Regions from separate parts of the Homo sapiens genome. Here all the other regions are reported to be linked to region 3. The links are microRNA targets in miRTarBase. Many come from high-throughput screens and were not tested one by one. Region 3 holds a microRNA gene; each other region holds the end of a gene's coding sequence.

Evidence for each region. The annotated mature microRNA hsa-miR-766-3p reads ACUCCAGCCCCACAGCCUCAGC and lies in region 3 at 2,494-2,515, shown strand. An mRNA with a match to its seed (bases 2 to 7 or 8) in the 3' UTR can be bound and repressed. Matches are read on the target gene's strand: a 7mer-m8 pairs with bases 2 to 8, a 7mer-A1 pairs with bases 2 to 7 and ends in A, and an 8mer does both.
Region 1: miRTarBase lists KAT5 as a target of hsa-miR-766-3p. The part of its 3' UTR that is shown has no 7-base or 8-base seed match.
Region 2: the mRNA of SCRIB is a reported target of hsa-miR-766-3p. The part of its 3' UTR that is shown has no 7-base or 8-base seed match.
Region 4: the mRNA of EHD4 is a reported target of hsa-miR-766-3p. Seed matches in the 3' UTR shown: 7mer-A1 at 893-899 and 7mer-m8 at 2,452-2,458.
Region 5: miRTarBase lists MTRF1L as a target of hsa-miR-766-3p. Seed matches in the 3' UTR shown: 7mer-m8 at 2,526-2,532.
Region 6: the mRNA of RAB3D is a reported target of hsa-miR-766-3p. Seed matches in the 3' UTR shown: 7mer-m8 at 2,149-2,155 and 7mer-m8 at 1,484-1,490.
Region 7: the mRNA of ZNF772 is a reported target of hsa-miR-766-3p. The part of its 3' UTR that is shown has no 7-base or 8-base seed match.

Annotation. Positions count from the first base shown.
Region 1 is chr11:65,718,433-65,722,494 of GRCh38, forward strand. KAT5 (lysine acetyltransferase 5) reads left to right here. Exons shown (of 13, transcript NM_182710.3): 11 at 158-317; 12 at 441-522; 13 at 615-1,172. The coding sequence ends at 749. It overlaps RNASEH2C (ribonuclease H2 subunit C), which reads right to left and starts at 2,366. Exons shown (of 4, transcript NM_032193.4): 1 at 2,155-2,366; 2 at 1,810-1,985; 3 at 1,613-1,732; 4 at 1-1,377. The coding sequence starts at 2,326. The coding sequence ends at 1,351. RefSeq lists a silencer at 2,052-2,291 and an enhancer at 2,442-2,511.
Region 2 is chr8:143,787,383-143,791,438 of GRCh38, reverse strand. SCRIB (scribble planar cell polarity protein) reads left to right here. Exons shown (of 37, transcript NM_182706.5): 36 at 1-50; 37 at 131-514. The coding sequence ends at 276. IQANK1 (IQ motif and ankyrin repeat containing 1) reads right to left here. Exons shown (of 14, transcript NM_001381874.1): 8 at 2,376-2,524; 9 at 2,196-2,250; 10 at 1,911-2,003; 11 at 1,570-1,678; 12 at 1,375-1,468; 13 at 1,168-1,302; 14 at 794-1,089. The coding sequence ends at 831. Among named protein-coding and RNA genes, the nearest start is that of MIR937, 24 kb to the left of the region's middle.
Region 3 is chrX:119,645,214-119,649,277 of GRCh38, reverse strand. It overlaps MIR766 (microRNA 766), which reads left to right and starts at 2,430; the gene lies at 2,430-2,540. The region is part of intron 5 of SEPTIN6 (septin 6); the gene reads left to right. RefSeq lists an enhancer at 1,197-1,376.
Region 4 is chr15:41,897,197-41,901,260 of GRCh38, reverse strand. It overlaps EHD4 (EH domain containing 4), which reads left to right. Exons shown (of 6, transcript NM_139265.4): 6 at 80-4,064. The coding sequence ends at 616. LOC105370792 (a long non-coding RNA gene) reads right to left here. Exons shown (of 4, transcript NR_135681.1): 3 at 3,740-4,064; 4 at 2,446-3,094. Among named protein-coding and RNA genes, the nearest start is that of SPTBN5, 5.2 kb to the right of the region's middle.
Region 5 is chr6:152,986,291-152,990,354 of GRCh38, forward strand. It overlaps MTRF1L (mitochondrial translation release factor 1 like), which reads right to left. Exons shown (of 7, transcript NM_019041.7): 7 at 1,072-3,805. The coding sequence ends at 3,605. Among named protein-coding and RNA genes, the nearest start is that of FBXO5, 5.3 kb to the left of the region's middle.
Region 6 is chr19:11,322,074-11,326,137 of GRCh38, forward strand. It overlaps RAB3D (RAB3D, member RAS oncogene family), which reads right to left. Exons shown (of 5, transcript NM_004283.4): 5 at 1-3,512. The coding sequence ends at 3,325. It also overlaps a transcript of TSPAN16 not described here. Among named protein-coding and RNA genes, the nearest start is that of TSPAN16-AS1, 2.8 kb to the left of the region's middle. RefSeq lists an enhancer at 2,175-2,384.
Region 7 is chr19:57,469,510-57,473,573 of GRCh38, reverse strand. ZNF772 (zinc finger protein 772) reads left to right here. Exons shown (of 4, transcript NM_001144068.2): 4 at 1-3,988. The coding sequence ends at 300. Among named protein-coding and RNA genes, the nearest start is that of ZNF772, 6.0 kb to the left of the region's middle.

The DNA of each region.
Region 1 (4,062 bases), not on the chromosome of region 3:
GAGGGAACTGAGGCACAGAGAAGTGGAGGGCATAGAACTGCCAAGTGGCAGGGCCATGATAGGAACTAGGCAGCCTGCCTTGGCAACCTGTGTTTTTAAATGTTGCTTATGTTCATCTGTGACCTCTTACTCACCCTCTCCTGCTCCATTGCTTTAGGCTATGAACTCTCCAAAGTGGAAGGGAAAACAGGGACCCCTGAGAAGCCCCTCTCAGACCTTGGCCTCCTATCCTATCGAAGCTACTGGTCCCAGACCATCCTGGAGATCCTGATGGGGCTGAAGTCGGAGAGCGGGGAGAGGCCACAGATCACCATCAAGTGAGCCTGGCGCTGTCTACCTGGGGGTACATGGCATGGCTTGTCTGTTCCTGGGCTTTCTCTCTCAGGGCTCCTGGGGACAGATAAAGGTCCTCAGGGAACCTGACCTGTGCTCTCCCACAGTGAGATTAGTGAAATCACCAGCATCAAGAAGGAGGATGTCATCTCCACTCTGCAGTACCTCAATCTCATCAACTACTACAAGGTAGGGAGGCAGGCAGGGGAGACAGGTGTGTGGGATGCAGAGTGCAGTCCTCTGTGGGCTGACCACCTGCTGAACCCATCTCCTCTGCCCAGGGCCAGTACATCCTCACACTGTCAGAGGACATCGTGGATGGCCATGAGCGGGCCATGCTCAAGCGGCTCCTGCGGATCGACTCCAAGTGTCTGCACTTCACTCCCAAGGACTGGAGCAAGAGGGGGAAGTGGTGACCAGACACTGCCCACTGCAGTGCCAAGACGGCAGCAGGACTGGGGCTGATAGCCCACCCCGCCCCCACTGCAGCTCCCACAAAGCACTCTAAGGGAGATGGGGCTGAGGACAGCTCAAAAAGGAGAGGACAGGCCTGGCAGGGGCCCACTGGTGCCCAGCACCAAGGCGAGCTCCGGGCTCAGACCAACTCCAAGGTCAGCTGGCCACAGGCCCAGGCCTCCTCTGAAGCAGGGACCAGAGGGAGCCAGGCAGCTGTGTACAGTGAGAAGGGATCCGGATGGGGGAGCTCTGTACAGAGGGCTGGTGATTGTAAAAATTTCTTTTGTAAAGTAGAAGTTGGGGGTGGGGTGGGTGCTGGCTGCAAAAATTTCTGGCTTCTCTTACCCCTATTGCCCCCGGCAATAAATTGTTTCTATATGCCAGAGCCATGCAAAGTTCTTGGTGGGGAGGGGGAAAGGGCCCATGCTGGCTTAGGGGCTCTAAGGCGCCCAGACTCACAGGTGCTGTGAAGAGCTCCTTTATTGGGGTGATGGAATCGGTTCCAAAGAGCTGGTTTACTGCTGTGAAGGGATCGCAGCTTTGAATTTCAAGCTCTGGTTCTCAGTCCTCGGGCACCTGTGCGTGAATCTGCAACAGGAGTCGCCTCTACTGTTGGACTTGTAAGACAGGGCGGCAAGCTGGCCCCCATACCCGAGGAAGGACCCAGCTGTTCAGAATAACCGCTTCTAGACATGCTAGGAAGAGTGGTCAGGGAGCTACGCTTCCCACACACTACCCAGTAGAATCCTCCAGGCTCCGTCTGCGCAATTGTGCTCCCCAGCCCATCCACCCGGGGGCAAGACGGAACTCCTCGTCTACTCACCGCTGCCGCAAGGCTGGGCCAAGTTAAGGCCCCACGCACTTTGGCATCCGGGCCAGGGATGGTCTCCAGACCCCACAGGGTGAAGCGGCTGAAGTTGGCAGTGGCTCCAATGAAGCGGTCCTGGGGAAGGGGCCTGGCTCAGCATCGGGACTACAGCTCCCGCCCGCACCCCCTTTCAACCCTATCCCTTTGCTCACGAAGTCCCGCTCCAGCGGCTCCTCCTCTTGGTCGTCAGTCCCGGAATCCCGCAAGGGGTCTGGCTTCCCCATCGACACCTTCTTCTCTTCTGTCACCATCACGTATCCCACGAGGCCAGGCGGCACCGCCACCTCCTCTCCCCGTAGACAGCGGCCCCGAAACGACACTTCGAGTCCTGGAGCGGGAGGCGCAAAGGGCCTCAGGCAGGACCCACGCTGGGTCGAGCCCGGAGCTGCCCTCCCGCCACCTCCGGACGGACCACGATCCCCAGGAGCCCAGGCGATGAGAAGCGCGCAGGCCGGCGCGGGGGCTGCCGGGAGCCGTAGTCCGGCCGCAGGGCTCACCCTCGGGGCCCTGGCGGATGGCGGGCGTGAAGAAGCGCCCCACCGGGGCGGGCCCGTCCACCGCAACCTCGCAGGGCAGCAGATGCAGTGTGGCGGGTACGGCGTCGCGCAATGTGGCGGAGCGCAAGTGGACGCGGTGCCTCTCGATGGCCGCTTCGTCGCCGCTCTCCATCCTCCCTCCTACGCGACGCCAGGGCTCGCGAGCTGACACTGAAGCTGGCGCGGAAAGCGCGCAGGACCTCTCAGGAAGCCTCCGCGGGGCCTCACGGGAAGCCGCCGCGGAGCTTCACGGGAAGTGTAGTCCCCTTACCCCCTAACGCTTTCCCTGGGTTCAAGTCCTAGGGTTTTCCAGTTGTGTTTTGTTTTTTTCCTTCCTTCCTTCCCCCCTCCCCTCTTTCCTCCCTCCCCTCTCCCCCTCTCCTTCCCCCTCCCCCCTCCTTCCCCCTCCCCCCTCCCCCTCCTCCCTGCCTCCCTTCCTTCCCCCCTTCCCTTCCCTTCCTTCCCGTCCTTCCCTCTTTCTTTCTTTTTCTTATTTATTATTATTTTTTTTTGACAGAGTCTCGTTTTGTCGCCCAGGCTGGAGTGCCAGGCACGGTCTCAGCTCACTGCAACCTCCGCCTCCCGGGTTCAAGCGATTCTCCTGCCTCAGCCTCCGGAGTAGCTGGGATTACAGGCGCACACCACCATGCCCACCTAATTTTTGTATTTTTAGTAGAGACTGGGTTTCGCCATGTTGGCCAGGCTGGTCTCGAACTCCTGACCTCAGGCGATCCTCCAGCCTCGGCCTTCTGAAGTACTTGGATTACAGGCGTGAGACACCGCCCCCAGCCGGGTTTTTTTCTTTTATTGTTTTTAATGGCACATGTCGTTGTAAAAATCTAAAACGATTCTGAAAAGTACTCTTTTTATATTGATTAGTAGGTAGGTTATTCATTTTTAGTTTATTAGGGACATCAACCCTTTTCTTAAATGCATTGAAAATGTTTTATCTGTGGTCTGTCTTGCAAACCTGTGTAAAGGTGATTTTTGCTGGACAAGGACTTATTTTTGTGGTTGTTTGGTCTTTTAGACAAGGTCTCACTCGCCTAGGCTGGAGTGCAGTGGTTTGATTGGCTCACTGCAGCCTCGACCTCCCAGGCTTAATCCATCCCCCATCCTCAGCTTCCTGTGTAGCTGGAACCACAGGCCTGCGCCACCACGCAGCTAATTTTTGTATTTTTGGTAGAGGTGGAGTTTTGCCATGTTGCCCAGGCTGGTCTTGAACTCCTGGACTCAAGTGATCTGCCCACCTTGGCCTCCCAAATCACGCTGGAATTACAGGCGTGAGCCACTGCACCCAGGACAAAGACTAATTTTTTGTAGTCAAATTTATCAACACTTTTCAGTCTTTTAGATTTCACAATTTTCTCTCTTTGGTTTCTCAGCTCTTCTCTAATGTTTATTTGTTCAGACACCCAACTTAGATATATTTTTTCAAGTTCTCACATAAAACAAACACAAAACTGGAAATTTAGATTTAAATTGCGTTTAATTTATACATCCCTGCACATCTGGGAGCTGGCCTTGGTATTCTGTTGAATATAAACAATTTCAGAGAACATCAGCATCGGACAAGGTCACTCTGTGACCGTGAGGGAGCAAGACAGAAACAGAACCACTCCATCGTCACATCTGAATGCTGGCAAAGGTGAACACTGTCCAAACCACAAAAGGCATGAAACATCCCTCTTTCTCCCATAAGAGAGTGACTGTTGTTTCCTTACCAATTACAGCATTAGCCTCCAACTAATCTTCTCTCCTTCTGGGCAAGACTCATTAAGATAGTCCGTCATAGACATACCCCCACCTCTGACAGCATCCAAGCCAGAGAGAAGCCTGGCTTCCCTAAACCCTGACTGAAATCACTGA
Region 2 (4,056 bases), not on the chromosome of region 3:
ACCGGACTTTGCTGAGGAGTTGAGGTCCCTGGAACCATCTCCCAGCCCTGGTGAGTTGGGGCCGGGCTGGGGTGAGCTCCCAGGAGCCCAGCTGCCCTCAGCTCACTGCCCACCTGTCCCTGCCCTCCAGGCCCGCAGGAGGAGGATGGAGAAGTGGCTCTGGTGCTTCTGGGCAGGCCCTCACCCGGCGCTGTGGGCCCTGAAGATGTGGCACTGTGCAGCAGCCGCCGCCCCGTAAGGCCTGGGCGCCGTGGCCTGGGCCCTGTGCCCTCCTAGAGGAGCAGGCACCTCCCCCAGACTTGGGGTGGGGGCCCTGCCAGCTCCAGCACCACCCTTGCCCCAAGTCTTTTAACCTGGGTGTTAGCATTTTAAAGAGACCCCACAGGAGTTCTGGCCTGTGACTAACTAACTGCCCCACCCCAGCCGAGACCTCGGCGAGACTGTAACTAGTGATGTTTGTACAACCAAAGACTCTATTTTGTGGTTTAAGGAGAATAAAGTTGACTACATTTTACCTCCCGTCTGCCTGTCCATCCCCCACCCACTAGCACAGACCCTTCCTGCCCTCCGAGGCGAGGCTGAGCTCCGAGGGCTGCACCCTCACCGTCCCTCCCACGTCTCCCGCTGCGCCTCACTGCGCACGGGTCGGCCGGGCAGGCTGCCCATCCCCAGCAGGGCCTCCCCCAAGTGCCTGCAGACCCATGTCCGCCGGCCGGGGCCCGGGACTGCCGGAGTCCTGGACTGGCACACGCCACCGCTGCCCCCACGCACGCAGCACAGATGCAGCACCGCGCCCCGGGGCACACGTTTTATTGGGACTGGGGCCAGCACTAGAGGCCTGTGCCTGGCAGCTGCACGCGCACTGGGAGCAGCACCTGCAGCTGCTCAGCTGGCGGCCACTGGACCTTGGTGACGAAAAAGAGGCGGAAGTGCTCCAGCCGCTGCTCCTGGAACTGCGTGGGGCTATACTCAGGCCCGTCCGTGGGCCGCAGCAGCGACAGGTACCTCTCCTGCACCGCCTCCAGCTGCCGCTGCACGACTGGGAACAGGTCTTCCTCTCGCAGGTCGAACACCAGCGGCTTCCCATACCTGCCCCATGAGGCTGGTGAGGCCAGGGTGGGGCTAGGGAGGTGGGGTGGGGTGTACCTGTCACCCTGCCTGCCTCACCGCAGAGCCCCCAGCAGAGCCAGCCACATCGTCTCCGGCCTCAGGGGCTCCGGGTTCACCGTGTCCACATAGTTGGTATCCTGGTAGCGCAGGAAGGTGGCCGCCTGGCCCAAAGGGTCAATAACAAGAGGCCACCTGGGGACACCCATCAGGTCACTGCTGTCTGTCCAAACCCCAAATCGCCCACGTCTGGCCCGGAGAACTGACCGGCCATCGGCACGGATGCGGTTGCCTACATCTTTCATCAGCACATCGTGCAGCTCGGTGACCTGGCACTTCAGCCCAGGCGCCTCTTCCTCCCCTGTCGGGGTAGCAGAGTGCAGCTGACAGGCAAGCCCGACGCCGGACCCCGCCCTGGGCTGTATGTCCCAGCCCCCAGCCGGCGCCCCATGCCAGGCCCACCCTCCTGCGTCTGCTCCCGAAGCTCCAGCCTGGCCATAGCCAGCGCCTCCTCGGCCTTCTGGGCCTCCTGCCGCAGCCTGTCCACCTGGGCCTCTGTGTCCTTGATGGCCTGGAGGAGGAGGCCACACTGACTTGCTTGCCCTGCCCCATGCTCTGGCTGGAGAGGGCAGCTGCCCGAGCTTCCTCCCCACCCCACCCCAAGCAGGCCACTGTCGGCTGGTGACTCCCCATGTTTGAGAGGGAAAAACCCCAGGCCTGGGAGCGGGGAGCTCTGGGCTGGTTTGGAACAAGGAGGGGTGTTGAGGACGCAGGGGCATATCAAGTCCACCACGGGCCCCCACCTGCAGCGTGAGCTTGGTCTTGTCCATGCACCTCCACTCACACTGGTCGTGCTCTGAGATCCTCCGGCTAAGCTCACAGTAGGCCTGTTGCAGCTGGGTGGGCGTACGGGCAGGCCCTGGCAAGGCTGGCCAGTATCCTCCGACCAGGTCACTCCTGGCCCAGGGGCCTGAGGACACCTCCCCTCCTGGCTCTTCCCCCAGCTTCCTGGCCCTCCCTCGGCTCCCCCTCCTCCCCACCCGGCTCTCCCTCCTCCTTTCCTGGCTCCTCCCTGAGGTCACACTCACCTCCTTGTGACACTGCTGCTGCTCCCTGGTCAGCTGTTGGACCTTGAGGGTCATACTAAGGAGCAGGAATGAGCTGGGACAGAGGCTTCCGCCAGCGCCCCCACCAGCACCCCCTGCCCGGGCTCCCTGCCAGCGCCCCTTGCCAGCACCCCTCGCCAGCACCTCCCACACCCCTCCTGCCTTCCACACCGCTCAGCCTCGGCCTCCTTGTGCCTCTGGGCCTCCTGGGCCCGGCGCTGCTGCTCAGCCTCCATGTTCTGGAGCATGGCCTCCGTGAGGCTCAGGTCCCACGAGCGCAGCACGCTCACCACTGTGTCCAGTGAGGCCACCTAGTGACAGACGACATTTGTCGGGCCCTCAGTGCGTGTTCCGAGTCTCCTCAGCCTGGAGAGGAACTGTTGCTCTCCCATCTGGGAGAAAGGGTGCCATTATGCAGAAAGGGCCTCAGTGCTCACAGCTGGTGCGTGGTGGGCCCCAAAGCATGAGCCCCTGTGGGGCTGCTGTCCCCAAAGCCCAGGCCACCCAGGCCGCTGGGAATTCTCCTGGGCTCCCTGACCAAGTCCAAGCAGGAACCTGCTCCTGTGGCTGGGCCTCCAAGGGCTTCCTTCCCCTTCAGTCCCCCAGGACCTGGCCCAGGCTTCCCGCCTCTGTCAGACTCAAGTACACGCCTGAGGCCTTGGGTGCCACTGCTGCTTCCTGAGTAGGAGGCTGGCCCGCAGGATGTGCACACTGGAGCTCCCTCCTCTGTGGTCTCCCACAGATCTCTGCCTGCAGGACACAATCCCTGGGGCCGCCGCTGCCTCTCACCCTCCTGAGTCCCCAGCACTCCAGGAGCAAGGAGTGGGTGCAGAGAGCCGGGCTCAAAGCCCAGCTGCGCCGGGTGAGTCCCTGACTTCCTGTGCCTGGCCCTCCTTGTCTGTGGAGCAGGGGTGATGCTTGGAGGGGGTCACAGTGAGGAGGAAGGAAGAGCAGGAGCTCAGAGCAGGTCCACATGCGCCTGGTGGCGGGCCAGTCCCGGCATCACGCTTGACCAGGAAGCTGTTCGTGGGTGGCTCCGTGTGTGAATGCCACTTGCCCCTTCCTGCTCTGGGAAGCAGGGGTGACCAGGGCCTGTTGTCTAGTGTGGCCAGCTCCCTAATAGCTGGATGACAGCGGAAGGAGGCAAGGCGGTAGCTGAGAAGGGCCGGGTGGGGCAGGGAGACTCTCATACTCGGAATTAGGCCTGCGAAACAGTCGGGGCCCGAGGAGCTGCTGGCTGGAGAGCAGAGGCCTGGGAGAAGAAGAGCAGGTGGCTGAAGGTGGGTGCCACAACCAAGAGCAGACCGAGAAGGTGTGGCAGGCCTGGCGACGGGGCCAGGTGGAGGTGGACAGGCACGGGCCATGGAGCAAGCAGAAGGCACTGCGTTAGGGGTGCGCGGGTGAGCGGCCGCATTCCCACAGAGCAAGGGGTTTGTGGCGTGGGAAGGATGAAGACAGGATGAGGGGAAGGAGGTGGGGTGCGCGGGTGAGCCGCCGGCGTTCCCACAGAGCAAGGGGTTCGTGGCATGGGAAGGATGAAGACAGGATGAGGGGAAAGAGCGGGGGCAGGATGAGTTCCCTGTAGCTCTTCCAGGAGACTGGCCACAGACAAGTGCAAACAGGGAGACTGAATGTGGGCAGAACTGGGAAGAACTCACAGATGCACGGGAGGGAGGGAGACACAGCAGACGAGAGGGAGAGAAGCAGTGGCGCGGCGTGGCCTTGGGTAACTGCCATCCTGGCTGAGTCGGTGCTGACTTAAGCATTTGTCTACAGATGCAGGGGGCAGAGATGGAAAGAAGGGGCAGTGTAGGGGGCCTGCAGGTCTGTGGGGGGCCAGGGA
Region 3 (4,064 bases):
TACTAAAAAATACAAAAATTAGCCAGGCGTGGTGGTGTGCGCCTATAATCCCAGCTACTCTGGAGGCTAAGGCAGAGGTTGCAGTGAGCCAAGATTACGCCATTGCACTCCAGCCTGGGCGACAGAGTGAGACTCCATCTCAAAAAAAAAAAAAAAAAAAAAAAAATCAGCGTTATGCTTTGCTTTATTAAGTGTGAATGAATAATAATAATAAAAAACCTTGCCATCTTTCCTCTCCTCCCCCACTTTCTCCTACTAGAGAAATGAGTAATAAAGAAGGCAGAGATGCAAACATCTCCTAATGCTTCCTTACAATGTGTTGCTGTTGCTGTGAAATCTTCAATGTTGTGATTTCAAGGAGACAGCTAATAGCTTTCAGAAAGCCTCCGCTTTAGGAACAGATTTCTTTTTCTCTATTGAGTGTCATCAGTTTTTCCTAATGACATAATGCCTGGGTATAGCCAAACTCAGGAAAGCCTTGTAATAAAAGCCATTTTTAGAAAACTTTCCTGCTGCCACTGCCCTCTAAGTTATCATTACAACTTCAGCTGCCACCTCCTATGAATTGGCCAACAAATTAGCATAGCAGGGCAGCAAGTCATTGTCTCTCCTGACTTCCTGTCCATCAGTACACCCGAGATGTGTTTGTTATCACCATCACCATCTTAGACAAATCTGGCTCAAGGGTAAGGCTATCTGGAGCATGGTAGGTAGAGATAGGTCTTCTCTGACCGGCCGTGGGCATGGAAAAAATAAAAAAGATTAGCACTTGTCCTCTCGAGAAGTCAGGGCATTTTGATGGAAACTAGGCTCTGTTATGAAGAGACAGCCTAGTCTGCAGAAAAACGGGAGCCTCGCGAGAAGTGTCATCTGGGTGCCACGGGCACTGATGTCTGGAAGCGTCTAGTCACCTCAGGACATCAGTCCCCATAGAGACCTTCTGAACACTGATGCCCTAAGTCATCAAGCAGCTTGCAGGCTTGTGGTTTGCTTTGCTAAGAATAAATAGGGACTGAGAGTACTCAGCCATCTCAAGGTGTCACACAGAACCACATCTTGGTACCTCATGGATTAGGAGTGATAATCATCCTGGGCTCTGTTCTCAGCTCAGCTCTGGCCTCCTGCTAAGCCTAGGGTAGGCTCAACCTCAAGGCTGGAAACCCCCAAGCTAGGCAGCAGCAGTTGTCAAGCATGCTGTTATGGCTGTGAAGGGATTCTGGGTCCTTTATTACTCATAATTGTGTTTCACTTTGAGAAACAAAATTCGAGGCTGAACAACATAGTGAGACCTCATCTCTACTGAAATTTAAAAAAAATTAACTAGTGGCCGGGCGCGGTGGCTAACGCCTGTAATTCCAACACTTTCGGGGGCCAAGGCAGGTGGATCACCTCAGATCAAGAGTTCGAGACCAGCCTGACCAACATGGAGAAACCCCGTCTCTAGTAAAAAGACAAAATTAGCCAGGCATGGTGGCGCATGCCTGTAATCCCAGCTACTCAGGAGGCTGAGGCAGGAGAATCGCTTGAACCCAGGAGGCAGAGGTTGCAGTGAGCTGAGATCTCGCCTTTGCACTCCAGCCTGGGCAACCAGAGCAAAACTCCATCTCAAAAAAGAAAAAATTAACTGGTGCTGTGGCGCACACCTGTAGTCTCAGCTACTTGGTCGGTGGGTGGCCTAAAGTGGGAAGATTACTTGAGCCTGGGAAGTTGAGGCTGCGGTGAACCCTGATCGAGCCACTGCACTACTGCAGGCTGGGTGACAGAGCAACACCCTGTCTCACAAAAAAAAAAAAAGAGAGAGAGAAAGGAAAGGAAAGAAAAAGAAAGTAAATAAAGAGAGAAAGAGAGAAAGAAATAAAAAGGAAGGAAGGAAGGGAGGAGGGAGGGAGGGAATTCCAGTGGAAGGAAGGAAGGAAGGAATGGAGGAAGGGAGGGGAGGGGAGGAGAGGAGAGGAGCAGGGAATTCCAGTGGATTCAGGATTATCCCTATCATAAATCACTCACCACTTACTCCCTTGCATCCTACTGTGCTTTGTTTTTTTTTTGAGACAGGCTCTCACTCTGTCGCCCAGGCTGGAGTACAGTGATGCAATCAATTTCAGCTCACTGTAGCCTCCACCTCCTGGGTTCAACTAATCCTCCTGCCTCAGCCTCCCGAGTAGCTGGGACCACAGGCATGCACCACCATGCCCGGCTAATCCACTATGGGTTTTTTTTGAGTGGGAAAGAGAGGAGTGGCCTCACAGCTAGTGTGCCTGAATTGGCATGCCTGTGAGAGGAGCTTGCATGTGAGTGTTTTGTGTTACATGCGCTGTGATGGGAAAGAGGGTGCTATCAAATATACACAGAGGATTGCTTAGCCTGCCTGCCACCGAACAACTATGTCAAAAGTCCCCAGAGTCTTCACACAAGCCGTGGTGTATGAAGCTGCATCCTCAGGACCTGGGCTTGGGTGGTAGGAGGAATTGGTGCTGGTCTTTCATTTTGGATTTGACTCCAGCCCCACAGCCTCAGCCACCCCAGCCAATTGTCATAGGAGCTGGATTGGAAGAAGCGGAAGAAATCTGTTGCCTGAGTGGAGAAGACTGTACAATGTCCTGTCTCTCACCATGGGGGATTTTTGTGGCAGGAAATGAGAGTAATGAGGTCCCTGCCACCACCTTGAATTATGGGTGGCTCCAGAAAACCTTATTGTAGATTGAGGGGGAAGAGAAGGGAGAGCGAGGTCTTGTTGCATGCTATTTTCAACCCATGCTCTGATATCTCTCAAGGTTGTAGACTTTAATACTAAGAATTGCTATGTTATTTTAAATTTAATGATGTTCTTTGAATGGCTGAAAGCATGGCCAGGACCAGCAAAAAGGCCCAGTTACTTAATTGACTGAGCTCCATTAATTGTCCATTTGTGAGGTCTGGGGTTTGGTTCCCACAAAGGCAATTGACATTTGGGCCCAGTGAGAACACATGGCTGAACAGTAGGGTCATAGGAAGACCCACAGGCACAAGTCCATCCCTTCCTCTGAGACAGCAATGGTATTTCCATTGTTGCCATGTACTTTTACAGGAATCACCAGTGGTTGACTTGAGAGCAAATCAGCCAATGGTCTTGTTCAGTCACCAGCAGGGGCCTGAAATGGGGACTAACATAACTGGGAAACACTGTCCACCCTGGGAGGAAACCAAGCCCAATCAGAATATTATCATTAGATGAGGAATAAAGAGTTCTGACAGTGTGTATTTCACTGGGCTAAGCAGTCACCTAGCCTCCCAAGTATAATGGATGTGGTGAAATAAGAATAAAGTAACTCACGCCAATTGGATTATTAAGTACTTTACAATGTACAAGAAGAATTTAAGTTAGACACAAGTCAGTAAAGGTGGTGCTATGGTTTGATTGTGTCCCCTCCAAAATTCAGGTGTGGCCAGTATGATAGTATTAAGAGGTCGGGGCTGGGTGCAGTGGCTCACACGTGTAATCCCAGCACTTTGGGAGGCCAAGGTGGGCGAATCACAAGGTCAAGAGATCGAGACCATCCTGGCCAACATGGTGAAACCCCGTCTCTACTAAAAATACAAAAAATTACCAGGCGCAGTGGCTCATACCTGTAATCCCAGCTACTTGGGAGGCCGAGGCGGGTGGATCACCTGAGGTCGGGAGTTCGGGACCAGCCTAACCAACATGGAGAAACCCCGTCTCTACTAAAAATGCAAAATTAGCCGGGCATGGTGGCACATGCCTATAATCCCAGCTACTCAGGAGGCTGAGGCAGGAGGATCGCTTGAACCCAGGAGACGGAGGTTGTGGTGAGCTGAGATCACGCCATTGCACTCCAGCCTGGGCACCAAGAGCAAAACTCCATCTCAAAAAAAAAATAGCTGGGCATGGTGCCACACACCTGTAGTCTCAGCTACTCGGGAGGCTGAGGCAGGAGGATCACTTGAACCCGGGACGCGGAGGTTGCAGTGAGCTGAGATCACGTCACTGCACTCCAGCCTGGCGACAGAGTGAGACTCCGTCTCAAAAAAAAAAAAAAAAAAAAAGGTAGGGCCTTTAGGAATTGATT
Region 4 (4,064 bases), not on the chromosome of region 3:
AGTCTCCCTCCAGTGGCCCCCAACTGTTTCCCCCTGAAGAGACCACATGTAACCCATCCTGTGGTTTGTCCTTCTGCAGGAACAGCTTGAGAACTATGACTTCACCAAATTCCACTCGCTGAAGCCCAAGCTGATCGAGGCAGTGGACAACATGCTGAGCAACAAGATCTCGCCCCTCATGAACCTCATCAGCCAGGAGGAGACGAGCACGCCCACGCAGCTGGTGCAGGGCGGCGCCTTCGATGGCACCACCGAGGGCCCCTTCAACCAGGGCTACGGGGAGGGTGCCAAGGAGGGCGCCGACGAGGAGGAGTGGGTCGTGGCCAAAGACAAGCCCGTCTACGACGAGCTCTTCTACACTCTGTCGCCCATCAATGGCAAGATATCAGGTGTCAACGCCAAGAAGGAGATGGTGACCTCCAAGCTGCCCAACAGCGTCCTGGGCAAGATCTGGAAGCTGGCCGACTGCGACTGCGACGGCATGCTTGATGAGGAGGAGTTCGCGCTGGCCAAGCACCTCATCAAGATCAAGCTCGACGGCTACGAGCTGCCCAGCAGCCTGCCCCCCCACCTCGTGCCCCCCTCGCACAGGAAGTCCCTGCCCAAGGCCGACTGAGGGGTGGGCTGCAGAACGGGGTGGGAACTGGGGGACCTGGGCCTCAGGCCTGCTCCACCACTGACTCACCGAATGACCTTGGGCAAGGCACTGCCCTCTCTGTGCCTTGGTTTCCCCATCTGTAGAATGGGGAGGGTGGACACTGGAAACTAGATGACTTCTTTCACCTCCAAAATTCCCTTAGTTTCTATGAAAATATTGGGGGTAGGGGGGTGGATTAGGAGATTGAAGGGTTGAGAAGAAAGAGAAATTGTCCAAAGAGTCCTCAGAACCTGCCTGGAGAAATGCGCATGGGGGTGGGCCTGGTAAGTCCCAGGAACCACAGGAAGTGAGCTAAGGCTCACCCAGAGCAGCTGGGTCTCCAGGCTGCCTGGGCTTTTTGTCCTCATGAACAACTCTGGAGCAGCTGTCTGTCCCTCAGAGGGCACCTGGAGGCAGCAAAGATTATCTTATTTATTTTATTTTGTTTTCTGCTATATTTAGAGTGGCAAAAAAATAGAGCAGAGGGTTTCTGCTGTCTCCAGACTGTCTACCAAAGAGAAGGCGACAGATGCCTCCTGGGTTTGGAAGGGGGATGCACTGTGGATCTGCCATCCATTCTGCAGTCTCCAGCAGAGCAGGCAGTCAGGCCCCAGCGTGCCTCCATCCCAGTGCCCCGATGACCATCTGGTCAGCCCTCCCAACCTCCCTTCCAGGGGGCTTACCAGCAAAGCCATATTCGGCTAGGAATTTGGAATTCACAACCTTTATTAACCCCTGGCAAAACTTCCCGTTTGCATGTCAAATCACATTGAAGCCTGAAAATTAGCTTTTCTTACTGGTTTTTCCAATAAGTAATAGCAAAGCCCACTTATCATACTTAAACTACAGTAAAGAAAAGAGGTGGTTCTCTGCAGTGATCGTTTAGTGTGGCCCTCAAACATTAAATATCCCGAGGTCTCCTTGGTGGGTGGCAGGATTTAAATTCAATCAAATCCTGTCCTAGTGTGTGCAGTGTCTTCGGCCCTGTGGACACAGGTGAATGAGGGACCAGCCCTGCCCTGGGCTGTTGAGAAGAGATCAGTCCACCCAGAGTTAGACATTGTTTTTGTAGAAAACAGGCATTTATTATGTCTAGGGTTTTGTGTTTTTTTTTTTTCCTTACAGGATAAAAGCCTTTATACAGAAACAAAATGGAACCTTTCATATAAAACCTTTTCTTTAAAGGCTGTGTGGTTCGTATCATGAATGCCCATCACGAGGCAGGATTCGGGCACATACCTGTACTTCTGCTCCAGAGTGTGCGCTCCCCAAATCCCCTGAGTAAACCTCTCTGGACTGCTGCTCAGACACCTGCGTCAGGTGGAGGTGCCTCCCCCTCTGTGGGCACCAGCTTGGGGAGGTAGGTGACTTTTCCTTGCAAATCTCCCTGCCTCATCTCCAGAAAATTGCATACCTGCATGGCCTCTCTGCATTATTTATGCAGGAAGAGACACGAAACAGCAATGGCCACATGGTATGGGGGCCTGCTGGCACCAGAAGTGAATGAAATCAGAACCGTCCCACTGAGTCTTCCAAAAGGCACATAATTTTTTTTTTCTGTCACCTGCCTTTGGTGACAGGGTCAAAGGCACAGATTGAAGAGAAAATCTTGATTTGGGAGAAGCATTTATATCCAGATGCCTACCCTTACACTCCCTAGCTTACTTTCTACATAATTTAGTTTTAAGAGCAGGAAATGCATAACATGGTTTTTAGTCTTAACAAGCACTTAAATTCATTAGACGCATAGAAAAGAACCATTTATTATTTTATTATTTTTATTTTTATTTTGAGAGGAAGTCTCTGTCACCCAGGCTGGAGTGCAGTGGCGCAATCTCAGTTCACTGCAACCTCCGCCTCCCAGGTTCAAGTGATTCCCCTGCCTCAGCCTCCCAAGTAGCTGGGACTACAGGCACCCGCCACCACGCCCGGCTAATTTTTGTATTTTAGTAGAGATGGGGTTTTACCATGTTGGTCAATATGGTCTCGATCTCCTGACCTCGTGATCTACCCACCTCGGCCTCCCAAAGTGCTGTAACCTAAGCAGACAGTTCTGTGAATGCGTGAGGACCACCTGAAGTCTGCAGCCACGGTGGAGGTCACCAAAGGGTGAACTGAGAGAGAAGAGGGAATTCACTTGCCCAAAGGTTTACAGATGCCCAGGCAAACTGATTTTTCCATCCAGAATTATCTTGTTCTTTAACTCTCCTCAATTGTCATATATAAACATGAATTTATATACATGTGTGTCACATGAGTATGTCGTTTTAAAACAACGTGTACATATGTAAGTTTTGTCTGGATACAGAAAGCTGCTTTAGAGGGCAGCAGGTTGAGGTCTCTGATTTCTCCGTGGAGGAAAACCTCTCAGGCACTGTGATCTCCCTACCTCTGCGCTCTCAGGTGGGAGAGGCGTCAGGCAGCGGAGTCCTTTCCCTGCTGGCACCTGGTAATGTTCTTGGAGAGAAAGGAAAAAAAAAGGAAATCATTTGGCCACTTTTCTTAATATCCTCTTACATGCAGTCATTCATCAAGAAAAGTTGACTGGAAAAGAAAACACTAGAAAATATGAGGGATGGCGACCAAGTGAGGACTTGTATCTTCCCAGGACCAGTACAAAGTTCTGTGAATGTGTCCACACCACCAGCTGTCTCCCTACCCCACACGGCAGGGCGGCAGGGCCGACCCTGGGGCCTGCTCACCATCACCGTTGCCCTTCCTGCACCACCCCAATTTTCAAAGAACCTCTTCCACAGAGTGTTTATGTATAGGAGAGAGGGTGGAAGTACCTAAACTCTAGAACTACAACATCTAAGAAGCTGAGGCCCTGTTTTCTACACAGCATATGGTATCGCATAACACAAACCTTCCGGTCTTGAGTTTAAAGGGAAAATGAAAACTCCAGCCTATTGCTCCCACAGTCTGCTTCCAAGTTGTCAGCCTGCCAGTGAGGGTCTCCTGACCCCGTTTGTAGAGAAACACTGCACTAAGACTTGGGAATCTCCCCAGCTCCCAGGGAGGGGTGGCACACAACAGCCTTCCAACCTGCTTCCGCCTCCTGCTCCAGCCCTGCAGCGTCTGTCAATTCATTTCTCAACTCACCGCACTTGGATGGCCTGGGGGCAGGGTTGCTCTTCTGGGGGAGGGTCATTCATTCAGTTGGCTTTTGGCTTTCCTTTCTCCGGGCTGGGCCTGGTTCTCTTTTGAACACTTGTCGTGCTGCAGCAAGAGCATCTTTGGATTTGGGGCTGTGGAGCTGTGGTTCACCCGCGGGAGTCACAGCCGCGGCCTGGACCTTTCCACCTCGCACCCTCGCTCACCCTCCTTCATGATGCCTGGAGGATGCCTGAGACAATTGCCTTGAAGATGAGGAAAGTGTTTCACTGTTTATTTTCTCCATGGGATGTAGCAGGCAAGCATGCTTAGG
Region 5 (4,064 bases), not on the chromosome of region 3:
AAAAATAAAGGGCAAGGGGACATTCTGAATTTTACTAGAAGCCAATAGATGTATACACCTCATTTTTCAAATCAGCATCAATCAGTTGTTGGGTGTTTAGGTGGAACATGAAGTGCAGAGAGAACTGCCCTCATTCTTTCGTAAAATTCTTATCGCAGACCTATCACATGCAAAACAATGGGATATATGGAAATAAATGGGACATGACACCTGCCCTTGTGCTTATTATCTGTGGGCTTGCCACATAATAGCCATAATAGGTGTTCAGTAAATAATTTCTGAATACCAATCAGGCATATCTGTGGGGGTAAGGTGTATAAAATAAAGCTATGTGGAACACTGGATGAGTCAAATACATTTAAATTTGTGGAAATTTTGGCCGGGACTGGTGGCTCACACCTGTAATCCCAGCACTTGGAAGGCCTAGGTGGGCAGATCACCTGAGGTCAGAAGTTCAAGACCAGCCTGGCCAACATTGTGAAACCCCATCTCTACTAAAAATACAAAAAATTGGCCAGGCATGGGGGCGGGTGCCTGTAATCCCAGCTACTTGGGAGGCTGAGGCAGGAGAATCATTTGAACCTAGGAGGCGGAGGTTGCAGTGAGCCGAGATCACGCCATTGCACTCCAGCCTGGCCAGCAAGAGTGAAACTCCATGTCAAAAAGAAAAAAAAAAATTGTGGAAATTTTCATAGAAAAAAAGGAGTTACTTCTATGTACCAGGATAAGGGAATAATCTGTAGGACAGGGTTTCTTAACCTCAGCACATTTTTGGCCAGATAATTGTTGTAGGATGTTTAGCAGCATCTCTTTTATTCCATCTTCCAGTTGTGGTAACTGTCTCTAAACGTTGTCAGATGTCTCCTGCGGGGGCAAAAGACCCTCTGGATGAGAACCATGGCTGTAGGGGATGTCTTCTGAAGAAATGGGCACAAAGGAGGCCTACAACATAAAGAACAAAATAAGGGAAAGGGTAAATGCAGTTGCATTTATCAGGATAATTTAATTTGATGTGGCATGGGGGGTGGTGTATAAAGTGAGCTAATACAAAATGATGCTGGATACAGATCATGGATGTATTGTATACACAGTGGAAAGCTGGTTTTATTTGGGAGACAATGGGAGCTTTTACATTGTTGAGCAAAGGAGTGACGAGATCAGTCTTGCTTTTTAGAAAGATTAGTTTGGCAGTTACTTATTTGTAACCAGAATTAGACAGCAAATCGGATGCAGGGGAGAAGTCAGGTGACTATTAGTCTGCGAAGTAATTCTGGACAAGAGCAGTGGTAATGGAATTGAAAAGGATTAAAAGTGTTTACCAGGTTTTAGCAATAAATCCAATGCGAGGAAGAGGAACGTAAGATGACATTTTAAATTTGAGAGTGGTAGTACCATTAAAAACTAATGAATTTTGATTAACTAGTGCTTTAGGCCCTTTGAAATTATTTTGAATTTTGGTTCTTTCTGAACAATGCACCAGATTTCTAGACAAATACTTAAGGTGTTTTTAGACATCTATTTAGTGCCTATTATAGCATGGTGTTAGCTTCCGAAGAGACAAGAATGATGAAAATACAATCTTATCCATTAGTGGCATTGTGAGAGGTCTAGCAGTAACTTGTTCATCCTATGCCCTGATCCACCCTTTCTCATTTCCTTATTAAGCACACAATACTGAGACCAGAATAAAGCAGTGCATTTACTACCTTGTGAAGAATGTTCAGGTGTTCAGGTATGGTATCTTCATTTTGTGCTGCTATAACAGAATACAGGAGACTGGGTAATTTGTAAGGAACAGAAATGTATTTCTCACAGTTCTGGAGGATGGGAAGTCTAAGATCAAGGAGCTGGCACTTGTTGACTAGGGCTTTCTTGCTGTGTTCTCACATACAGAAGGCAAGCTAGCAGGATGCTCCCCGAAACCTCTTTTATTATGGGCCTTCATCCCAGTCCTAAGAGAATCCCTCATGGCCTAGTGATCTCTTAAAGACCCCACCTCTTGATGCTGTCACATTGGCAACACTTGAATTTGAGGGGACACATACAAGCCATAGCAAACTGAACATTTCTCCCATGCCAGATAGCACCATGTTCTTTGTCAGTAGGTGGTGGTAGAGGGGCACTGCAGGATAAAGGGGCTTCTTTCACTTCTAAGATGATACTGTGACAGTTAATTTTATGTGTCAACTTGGCGGGGCCACAGGTGCCTAGCTACTGGGTCATACTTTTTTTTTTTTTTTTTTTGAGATTTAACTTTTGCTCTGATTTTCCAATTATAAGGTCAAACATTATTCTAGGTGTTTCTGTGAGGGTGTTTTATATGAGATTGACATTTAAATCAATCAGTGAACTCTGAGTAATGCAGACTGTCCTCCTCGATGTTAGTGGGCTTGATCCAGTCAGGTGAAGGTCTGAAGAGAAAAAAAGACCGTCCTCTTCCCAGAACAAGAGAATCCTCCAACAGATACCTTTGGACTGGACCTTGCACCATCAGCTTTCCTGGGTTTCCAGCCTCCTGCCTCACACTCCAGCTTTTGGACTTGTTAGACTTAATAATAACAACACAAGCCAATCCTTTTAAGGAAGTTTGTCTGGAGAATCTTGACAAACACAAACATCTACTGAGAGTTCCTGTCCAAGTTTTGCTCACACCCTAGCAAGAGGCTTCTGGCTTACCAGTTGGGAGTGTGAGGTTCTTTGCTTGTAAGACCTGATCCACCAGCGGTACACCAGCTCTGGCCCAGGGCAAGACAGGGAATTTCCCAATCACTGAGTAGGCTGTAGCCACTCTCTCCATTAGGCCTGACTTCACCATGGGGAAGGGGAGACCCTTTCAAGGGTATTCTTTCCTGGGGTACTCTCAGTCCTAGGACATCATAGCTCTCTTTCATCCCTCTTAAAAGTTAATACCATTATCAGTTAACAGTTTTTATATTAAAATTATCCCTGTTCAAGTTAATGGTATGGTTTCTGTATCCTGACTGGATATTAGGATACAGTATTTACTGTCTTATTTCTACTACTTTATGTTTAAAGTTTTTCATAATATTTAAACTGAAGTTTTGATCATTCATTAAATATTTACACAGAACAGGACAAAGGATGATTTTCCTTTGTCTAGTTATTGTAAGGTAGCGTCCAAGATTTACCACCACATCATGATTACAGATGGTCACCAACTTATGTTTTAGGATTTTTTGACTTTATGATGGGTTTATAGGGATGCAGCCCCATTTCAAGCTGAGGAGCTCCTTAGGGCTTAGGAATCATACCTCTTTCACACCATGGTAAAGTTGGAAAATTGTTAAGTCAAGCTGTCATTAATTAGGAGACTGCTGTGTTGCTAACGTTATATGCATTTTTAACTTATGATGGGTTTATTGGGAATTAACCACAATGTAAATCGAGGACCATCTGTATATTGTATGATTTTTGCTAATGCATTGAGAGAGATCTGTGTAAATTATCTATGACTTCAGAATATGCATATTACCTCCAACTGTGTTAACTCAACGTTTTTCAAGAGAGTAAGGGTACTTTCACCCTATGTGGATGTACTGTAGAATTTTTCTAAGCTACGAAAGTCTATAAATAACAAATCAACTTAAACTTTTTGGGAAATAATTTCTACTAAAGATTCATAATCGGCGTATTCCTTCAATGACTGTACAAGTTCATCCAGTAGATAATCTCCTTGCATAAAAGTTTCAAGATCATGCAGCGTCTTGTTTATTCTGTGATCTGTGACCCGGTTCTGTGGAAAATTATATGTTCTTATTTTCTCTGATCTTCCTTTACTTCCAATCTGTATATAGAGAAAAAGATGAGATGCAGCTAGATTCAGGGCAATTTAAACCTACAAATTTAACTTATTTGGAGACTTAAGTTCTTGATTTATAACATGAATCAAATGCGAGAACCAGGTTTTAAACACTTAGAATCTCAAATGACATGGGAACATGATATAGAAAAAAGAACACGTGCTCTAAAATCAGATTAATATCTGAATCCTGCCTCAGCCACTTCAATGTTCTATGACCTCGGGCAACTTAGTTTCCCGATCT
Region 6 (4,064 bases), not on the chromosome of region 3:
CACGACGGATTTAAGTTTTTCTTGTTGAGAAGAGTACATCTTTCCAAACTGGACATCAAGGAATTGCTACACAGAAGAACCACATCCAGGATAGAAAGGACCAGCCAGAGCTCGTTCAGTAGTGTATTTCAGAATCATCAGGGAGGAGCCGGTAGCAGAATTATCCCGTTAACACTGAGACCACATTTCACCTGTTACTTATTTTTCTAAATGGAGTAGGAGAGAAAGATGCTAAAATGTGATCTTGGGAGGAGTCCCCCAGTCCCCCGAAAAAGAAGAAGAAAAAAAAAAAGCAGAACTCCAAACCCCTGTGGTCATGGCAATTTCCCATCAAAACTGCCCATGTAAAATAAACACAAGCTGCTAAAAGTGAATGTTAAGAAGGAAGGCACTGGTTAGTGGGTGGTCCTGACCAATCCCCTGGAGCTGGAGAGGGGTTTTCCCACGGCCTTTGGTTTAATGTGTCTGTAAACTCAACAAACCTCCGTTTCCCTGAGGTAATCTGCAAAAACATCAGTTTTCAGTCCCCAGAGACCATTTCCAATTAAACCTCACCCCCCAAATCATTCAATGTAACATTTGCCTTATTTTTAGAAGAAACAAATGTTCCCATATTATTCCCAGTTTTTGAGAGAATCCTGAGGCAGCTCTCTCGGCTGCTACTTGAAGTTGAATTCTTGAAAAATCTTATGTAAACAGAAAGCTTAGGCCAGGTCAGGAGTAAAATGCAGTCAAAGCTGTTTCTCATCACACAGGTGATTACAGGTTAGCTCTGCCCTATTCAAGACAATCTGATCCATTCCTTTTTTTGACAGCAGTTTAGAGACAATTGGCCAACAAAACCAGCCTGGCCAACAAGGTGAAACCGTCGCTACTAAAAATGCAAAACTTAGATGGGCGTGGTGGCAGGTGCCTGTAGTCCCAGCTACTTAGGAGGCTGAGACAGGAGAATCGCTTGAACCCGGGAGGTGGAGGTTGCAGTGAGCTGAGATCATGCTACTGCACTGCGGCCTGGGCGACGAGCGACTCTCTGTCTTAAAAAAAAAAAAAACAAAAAAACCTCAGCAGGCCATACTGCATCTTGAGAAGTCTTTTTGAAGCTACTTTAGTTTGACTTTAGTGTTAAAGTAGCTAAAAATTTTTGACTCCCGCCCACATATTCAGATACCCTCACTTTGTGCATAGGATTTGTCCATTACACCTCAGTCATCTAATTTGTTGGTATAAAAGATACCCTCGGCTGGGCGTGATGGCTCACGCCTGTAATCCCAGCACTTTGGGAGGCCGAAGCAAGTGGATCACTTGAAGTCAGTTTGAGACAAGCCTCACCAACATGGTGAAACCCCTTCTCTACTAAAAATACAAAATTTAGCCGGGTGTGGTGGCAGGTGCCTGTAATGCCAGCTACTCGGGAGGCTGAGGCAGGAGAATCGCTTGAACCCTGGAGGTGGAGGTTGCAGTAAGCTGAGATTGTGCCACCGCACTCCAGCCTGGGCAATAGAGCGAGACTCTGTATCAAAAAAACAAATGAAAAAAAGATACCCCACTCCAAAGTTCTAAGGGTAGCCTCTGGTATGAAGAAACCAGGGCTCCCTAGAAATAAATCTAAACTTGAACCAGGCTTTCCCCCTCACACATACCCCAGGGAAGAGGCTGAGCTCATGAAAGCTGCAGGAAGTCATTTTGGCTTCAGGGGCTGGGAGAGCAGACACAACCTCTGAAACAGAGTCAGGGACGTGGGAACATAAAACATCCACTTAGCCATCCTAACAGTGCTGGTCCTGTGAAGGGGTGTTGGTTGGTGTTTGGGAGCAAAGAAAAGGTGCTGCGCCCCTAGAGTTTGGAATCTGATGGGCAGAAAGTGCCTCTAAACCGGAGGTCAAGATGTACATCTTCAAACTGCACACGTAACCTCTGAGCAGAAGCCCCTGGAGGTGGGGACCCCAGCTTCAGAGACTCCCCGGCACTGATCACAGTCCATCCCCCCCATTCACATAAGGTCCTGCCACTCTCAGGCTGTCTACAAAGTACAAGCAGTGACAGCAAGTTACTCAATCCTACCTCCTCACCCCTTCCGCCCAACCCCCAGCATCCCTTAGAAGTGACCCCTAGTTTGAGGCTGTGGTGAGCTATGATTGCACCACTGCACTCCAGCCTGGGTGACAGAGCCAGACCATCTCAAAAAGAAAAAAAAAAAAAAAGAAGTGACTCCTCCATTAGCAAAAATTGTCACATCCCTGGGCCCTGCCGATGACAAGGATTGGGAAATGGACATTGGGTCTTGAAGGGCCCCCCTCAAGTCGGAGCCCAGGTGCTTACATCAGAAAGTCGCCGACAACTGCCTGCGGTGGCTGGGAACGTTGCTTCATTTCCTTTTCTAGCAGGATGCATGATTGGGCAAGAACTTGCTTAAAACACAACCAGCTAAACAGCTAAACAGGGCCTGGGAGGGAGGCCCCAGCCCCAGGCTCCTGGCTCTGAGGTTAATTAACTTCTGGCCGAAAGCCCAGAGCCGGAGTGCTAGGGGTTGGGCGAATCTCTGCCCAGTCTAATGTGGTCCATAGTTCCAGAATTCACTTCAGGATCAGAGATGTGGTGAACACAGCAAAAACAGTGGCAGGGTCGTGGGTGATGTGGATCTTGGGGGAAGCTTGGAAGGCACTTCTGGGGTCCCTGAAGCCGGGGGGTTGAGGGGATCTGACTCCCTGTCCCTTCTACAATGGGAAAAGGCTGCTTCAATGCTGCTTTTCGCAAGTAGAGGGTCTGCAGGGGTCAAAGGGATCACCATCCCACCTTGGAATCCAGAAAGTTCGTGGGGGCAGGCTCAGAGACCAGCCTGCAGGACCTGAGAAAGAGGCGCCGCCTTCCCTGGATGAACTCCAAGAACCCACACTGTGCGAGGAAGATGAACCATCTTCCACCAGCTTGGGAATATCAGTCCTGCCCAACCCAGAAGAGACCTGGAAAATGGTTCTAAGCTAGAAGGCACCACGGATGCCCCTCCATCAGAAAGAGTGGGACGTGTCACCCATGGCCACCCTCAACACACCCTGGAAAGCAGCAAGCTCATGCACGTCAGTGTCCCTGGGCCTCTGCCTGCCATGCAGAGCTGAGTCCCCATGGTCCGCAGCCTCCCACCGGGGCTGCCTGAGGAACCTGGCAGCCACGGCGACATTGTGAAGGAATGAGCCATGCAGGAGTCGGGGAGCAGTTGACAGGAGGGAAGGGATTGCCCTGAGCTTGGAGATAACCACTGTGGCTCACGCCTCGATCACAGTCCCTGCCGAGGCAGGAGAGGGGTGGGTGGGGGGTTGGGGGCCATCTCTAGCAGCTGCAGCTGCTGGGCTGGGGGGCTGGAGCATCCCCCACGGCCGGGCCTTTCCCGTTGCTGCCTGAGCTGGAGCTGGGTTCCAGGGACTCGTTCATCTTCTCGCAGATGACATCCACCAGGCGCTCGAAGACCTGCTTCACATTGATGTTCTCCTTGGCACTGGCTTCAAAGAACTCGAAACCTGGATGAATGTTAAGGTGGGGACACTCGTAAGACCCCTGAGGGCAGAGTCTCAGCTGTGGCATCACAGAAACCTGGCTTCTAAGCCTAGTTCTGCTCTTTATCCTGCTGTGGGACCTTGGTTGTGTGCCTTTGCCACTCCAAGCCTCAGTTTGCTCACCTGTAAAATGGGAATGATGATCCTACCAATGATAAAAATCTGTGGCAGGCCAGGCGCAGGGGCTTATGCCTGTAATCCTGGCACTAAAGGAAGCTACGGCGGGAGGATCGCTTGAGGCCAGGAGTTCAAGACCAGCCTGGGCAACATAGCAAGGCCCTATCTCTACAATAAATTTTTTTAAAAAGTAGATGGGCGGCCAGGTGAGGAGGCTCATGCCTATAATCCCAGCACTTTGGGAGGCCGAGGCGGGAGGATCATTTGAGGTCAGGAGTTCAAGACCCGCCTGACCAACATGGTGAAACCCCATCTCTACTAAAAAGACAAAAAATTAGCTGGGCATGGTGGCACGCGTCTGTAATCCCAGCTACTCGGGAGGCTGAGGCAGGAGAATTG
Region 7 (4,064 bases), not on the chromosome of region 3:
TACAGACTCATTAAACATTGGAGTGTTCATACTGGAGCAAGGCCTTATGAGTGCATCGCATGTGGGAAGTTCTTTAGCCAAAGCTCTGACCTTATTGCACATCAAAGAGTTCATAATGGTGAAAAGCCTTATGTGTGCAGTGAATGTGGAAAAGCCTTTAGCCACAAACATGTACTTGTTCAGCATCATAGAATTCACACTGGAGAAAGGCCATATAAGTGCAGTGAATGTGGGAAGGCCTTCAGGCAGAGGGCTTCCCTCATCCGCCACTGGAAAATTCACACTGGAGAAAGGCCTTAGGATGGGAGATAATTCCGTTTCCTTGTTCAACATAATAACTGACATCAGAGAGAAGCTCCAAGCATAGCCTTTATGTGTAGCCGACAGCCAGAAGTAGAACTTTATACACTCAAACACTCACCCTGGGGAGGTTCTTCCGAGTGCCAGCTATATGGGAAGCCTTCTGGAGCTATGCTGAATTTTCTAGACTCTTGCTGGAATTTCGTCAAGGCAGTGCCTGTTAGAAGCCATCTGTCTTTGTGCTGGAAGAGTCCTGCCTTGTGCCAAAGTAACCCCAATGTGTTTCAAAAGACAGACCTCTGTACTATTCCCTTCCCTGGAGGGAATCATCAGTAGCCTGAGGCCATCAAGGATTCTCACTTTTTTTCTGCCCCACTACTGGTTTAAGCATGAGCATGACCCAGTTTTAGCCAGAAAAATGGGAGCTTTGTTCTGCTGACCACTGGCAGAGGTTTCCCTTCATGGATATAGTTGATCTCACATGGCACTTGGGACGAATTTTTCTAGCCTTCAAGACACCTGACCTGAAATTGGCTGCCTCATATTCTGGTTTTGCAACAAATGCCTTAATTTTTAGACTATCTGAAATCTTGAGGATTCTGTTCGCTTTGTGGGTTGGGTTGAGAACAGAATTGAGCTAAGCCAGTATGAAGGGAAGAACAGCTTTTGTGAGAGCTCCAACTATCTGTATCTCTGAAGTGATAGTAGGATGGCAAAGACTAGCTCTTATGCTAGTGTCAAGCTAACTTACTTGACTGCTTCAGCTCTCCTAGGAAAGAATGCCAGTCTTTGTAGGCCTAATCTTTTGGTCTATATGTTAAGATTTTTTGTGTAATTGAGGTCACCCTAAGCAGTGGGCATTTGTTGTGATAATCTCTAATGTGTCTGGGAGCAACATGAATTACGTCCCTTGTTCCCAGAAGATACTTCATATTCCCAAGGCTTCTTGAGGAGAATTTGAACTCAGTGGACATGTCAAGATCTCTGAAGTCTATTTTTCAGTAGGCAGTTGATATTGGCTGTCCTCCAGAAGGCCCAGGTAGGAATCATAGTTGGTGCAGAAACCCAGATTAATAAAGGAATGAGAAAACTGCAGCAAACTATAGGGAATATGACCCTTCTAAAGGTACATCCACATGTGTTTCCATTACTCTGGCTCCATTATGAGGGTTTACAGAAATATTTCCATACCTGTGTCTCTTATGGCTAAGGTTACTGTCCAGAAGTCAGTCTAAACATTTTTGCAATAAACTGCACATATTTATAGTGTACCATTTGATAAGTTTTGATACATGTTGGCACTTCTCAAACCAAAAGTTTCCTGATTCCTTTTATATTTTCTCCCTTTCCTTCACCCATCCCCAGGCAACTATTGATCCGTTGTCACTGTAGATTTGTTTGTATTTCCTAGAATTCTACAGAGATAGAGTAATTTAATATGTATTCTAATGTTTTTGGCTTCTTAAACTCTGAAATTAAGGCTCATGGTGGTGTTCTGTGTTTCATAGTTCATTTCTTTTCATTTGTACTTTGCTAAGAGTGTTCCATTGTAGAGAAATAGTTTCAAAGCAAGTGATCCAGGAGAGAACTCACACAAGAACAAAGCCACAGTATCTGTCATTACCTTAAACTGAAAGTGATGAGCCGTCATTTCTGCTATATTTCATAAGTAACCCTAGCTAATCCTGGTTAAAAGTGGAAGAGAACTACACAAAGGTGAAAATAGGGATTTGTGGGGCGTTTTCTTGGACTCTGGTGACCATAATCCTATATGGTTTTTTTCTTTTTCTGTTTTAGTTGTTTAATATGAATTACATTGACTGATTTTTTTAAATGTTAAGCCAACCTTGCATTTCTGTAATAATTCCCATTTGGTCATGATGTATTAGTCATTTAGTATATTGTTGAATTTGATTTGCTATTTTGTTTTGTTTTGTTTTGTTTTTTTGTAACAAGTTTTGCACCAATGTTCACGAGTGATATTTGTCCCTAACTTTCTTTCTTGCTTGCTTGCTTTTTTTTCTTTGTAATTTTATATCTTGCCCAGGTTTGGCTTTGGTATCAGCATAATGCCAGCTTTATAGAGTAAGTTGGGAAGTATTCCTGCTCTTCAGCTCTCTGGAAGAGTTTGTGAATAATTGGTATTATTTCTTCCTTAAATGTTTGGTAGAATTCACCAAGGAAGCTGTCTGGGCCTGGAGTTTGTTTTGTAGGAAAGTTTCTAACTATAAGTTTGATTTCTGTGGTAGATAGAGGGCTGTACAAGTTATATGTACATCTGTCTGTGTGTGTGTTGTCTGTCTGTCACTCTGGCCCTGAAGTGTGTTTTGTAGGACAGCATCTAACTACAAGTTTGATTTCCATGGTAGATGGAGGGCTATACTAGTTATATATACATCTGTCTGTCCGTCCATCTGTTTGTCACTCCATCCATCCATCTATCTCTAGAGTGAGCTTTGATGGTTTGTGTCTTTCAAGGAGTTTTTCTGTTTTATTTAAGTACTCAAATTTTTCAAAATATTATTTTCATACTTGTAGAATTTGTAGTGGTGCAACCTCTTCTATTCCTGATACTGGTAATGTCTATATTTTTCTTTTAACCTTGATTGGTTTGGGTAGAGATTTATCAATTTTACAATTTTATTGATCTTAAAGTACTTGGTATTATTGAATTTTCTGTTTTCTGATATTTTGGGATTTTTCTTTTCCATTTTGAGTTTTACTAATGCCTTCCGCTTTTATTGGATTTCATTTCTTTTGCTACTTTTTAACATGGAAGCTGAGGTCCTTCATTTCAAACCTTTGGGTTTTTTTCCCCTAATATGGGGAAGAGATGTTAATGTTAAAAATCTATCTGAGAACTGCTTTAATTACCTCCCATCAAGCTTGATGTGGTTTCATTTTTTTTTTTGAGACAGTGTCTTGCTCTGTCATCCAGGTTGGAGTGCAGTGGCGCGATCTCGGCTCACTGCAAGCTCTGCCTCCTGGGTTCACACCATTCTCCTGCCTCAGCCTCCCGAGTAGCTTGGACTACAGGCGCCTGCCACCATGCCTGGCTAATTTTTTGTATTTTTAGTAGAGACGAGGTTTCACCGTGTTAGCCAGGATGGTCTCGATCTCCTGATCTTGTGATCCGCCTGCCTCAGCCTCCCAAAGTGCTGGGATTACAGGCGTGAGCCCAGCCGATGTGGTTTCATTTTAGTTGAGTTTAGGATGTTTTCCAGTTAAAAAAATTCTTCTTGACACATGGCTCTTTTTAAATGTATGTTATTTAATTCCTAAATATTTGGGGATTTTGCTTATCTTTCTGGTAGTTTCTGCAATAATTCCATTGTGGTCAGAGTACATTAAGACTTGAATTATTTACATTTATTGAGATTTGCTTTGTGGCCCAGAATATGGGCTATCTTGGTATGAGTTACATGTTCACTTGAAATGTATACTGTACTCTCGTTTGATGAAGGGGTTCTACAAGTGTTGATTAGGTAAAAATGGTTGATGTTATTTAAGTTTTTTCTATCTTTATTGACATTCTGTGGTTTTGGTTCCAGCAATTATTTTAAGAGGATTGTTGACATCTCTGAATATTAAATTGGATTTACTTCTCTGCAGTTCTGTCAGATTTTGCTTCACATATTTTAGTATGTTTTTATTAGGTGAATAATAAATATTTCCTATTTTATGTCCACTTGATGTGTTGACCACTTTATCATTATGATCCTGTTAATCTCTGGTAATATTCTTTCTCTAAAATCTCCCTTGTC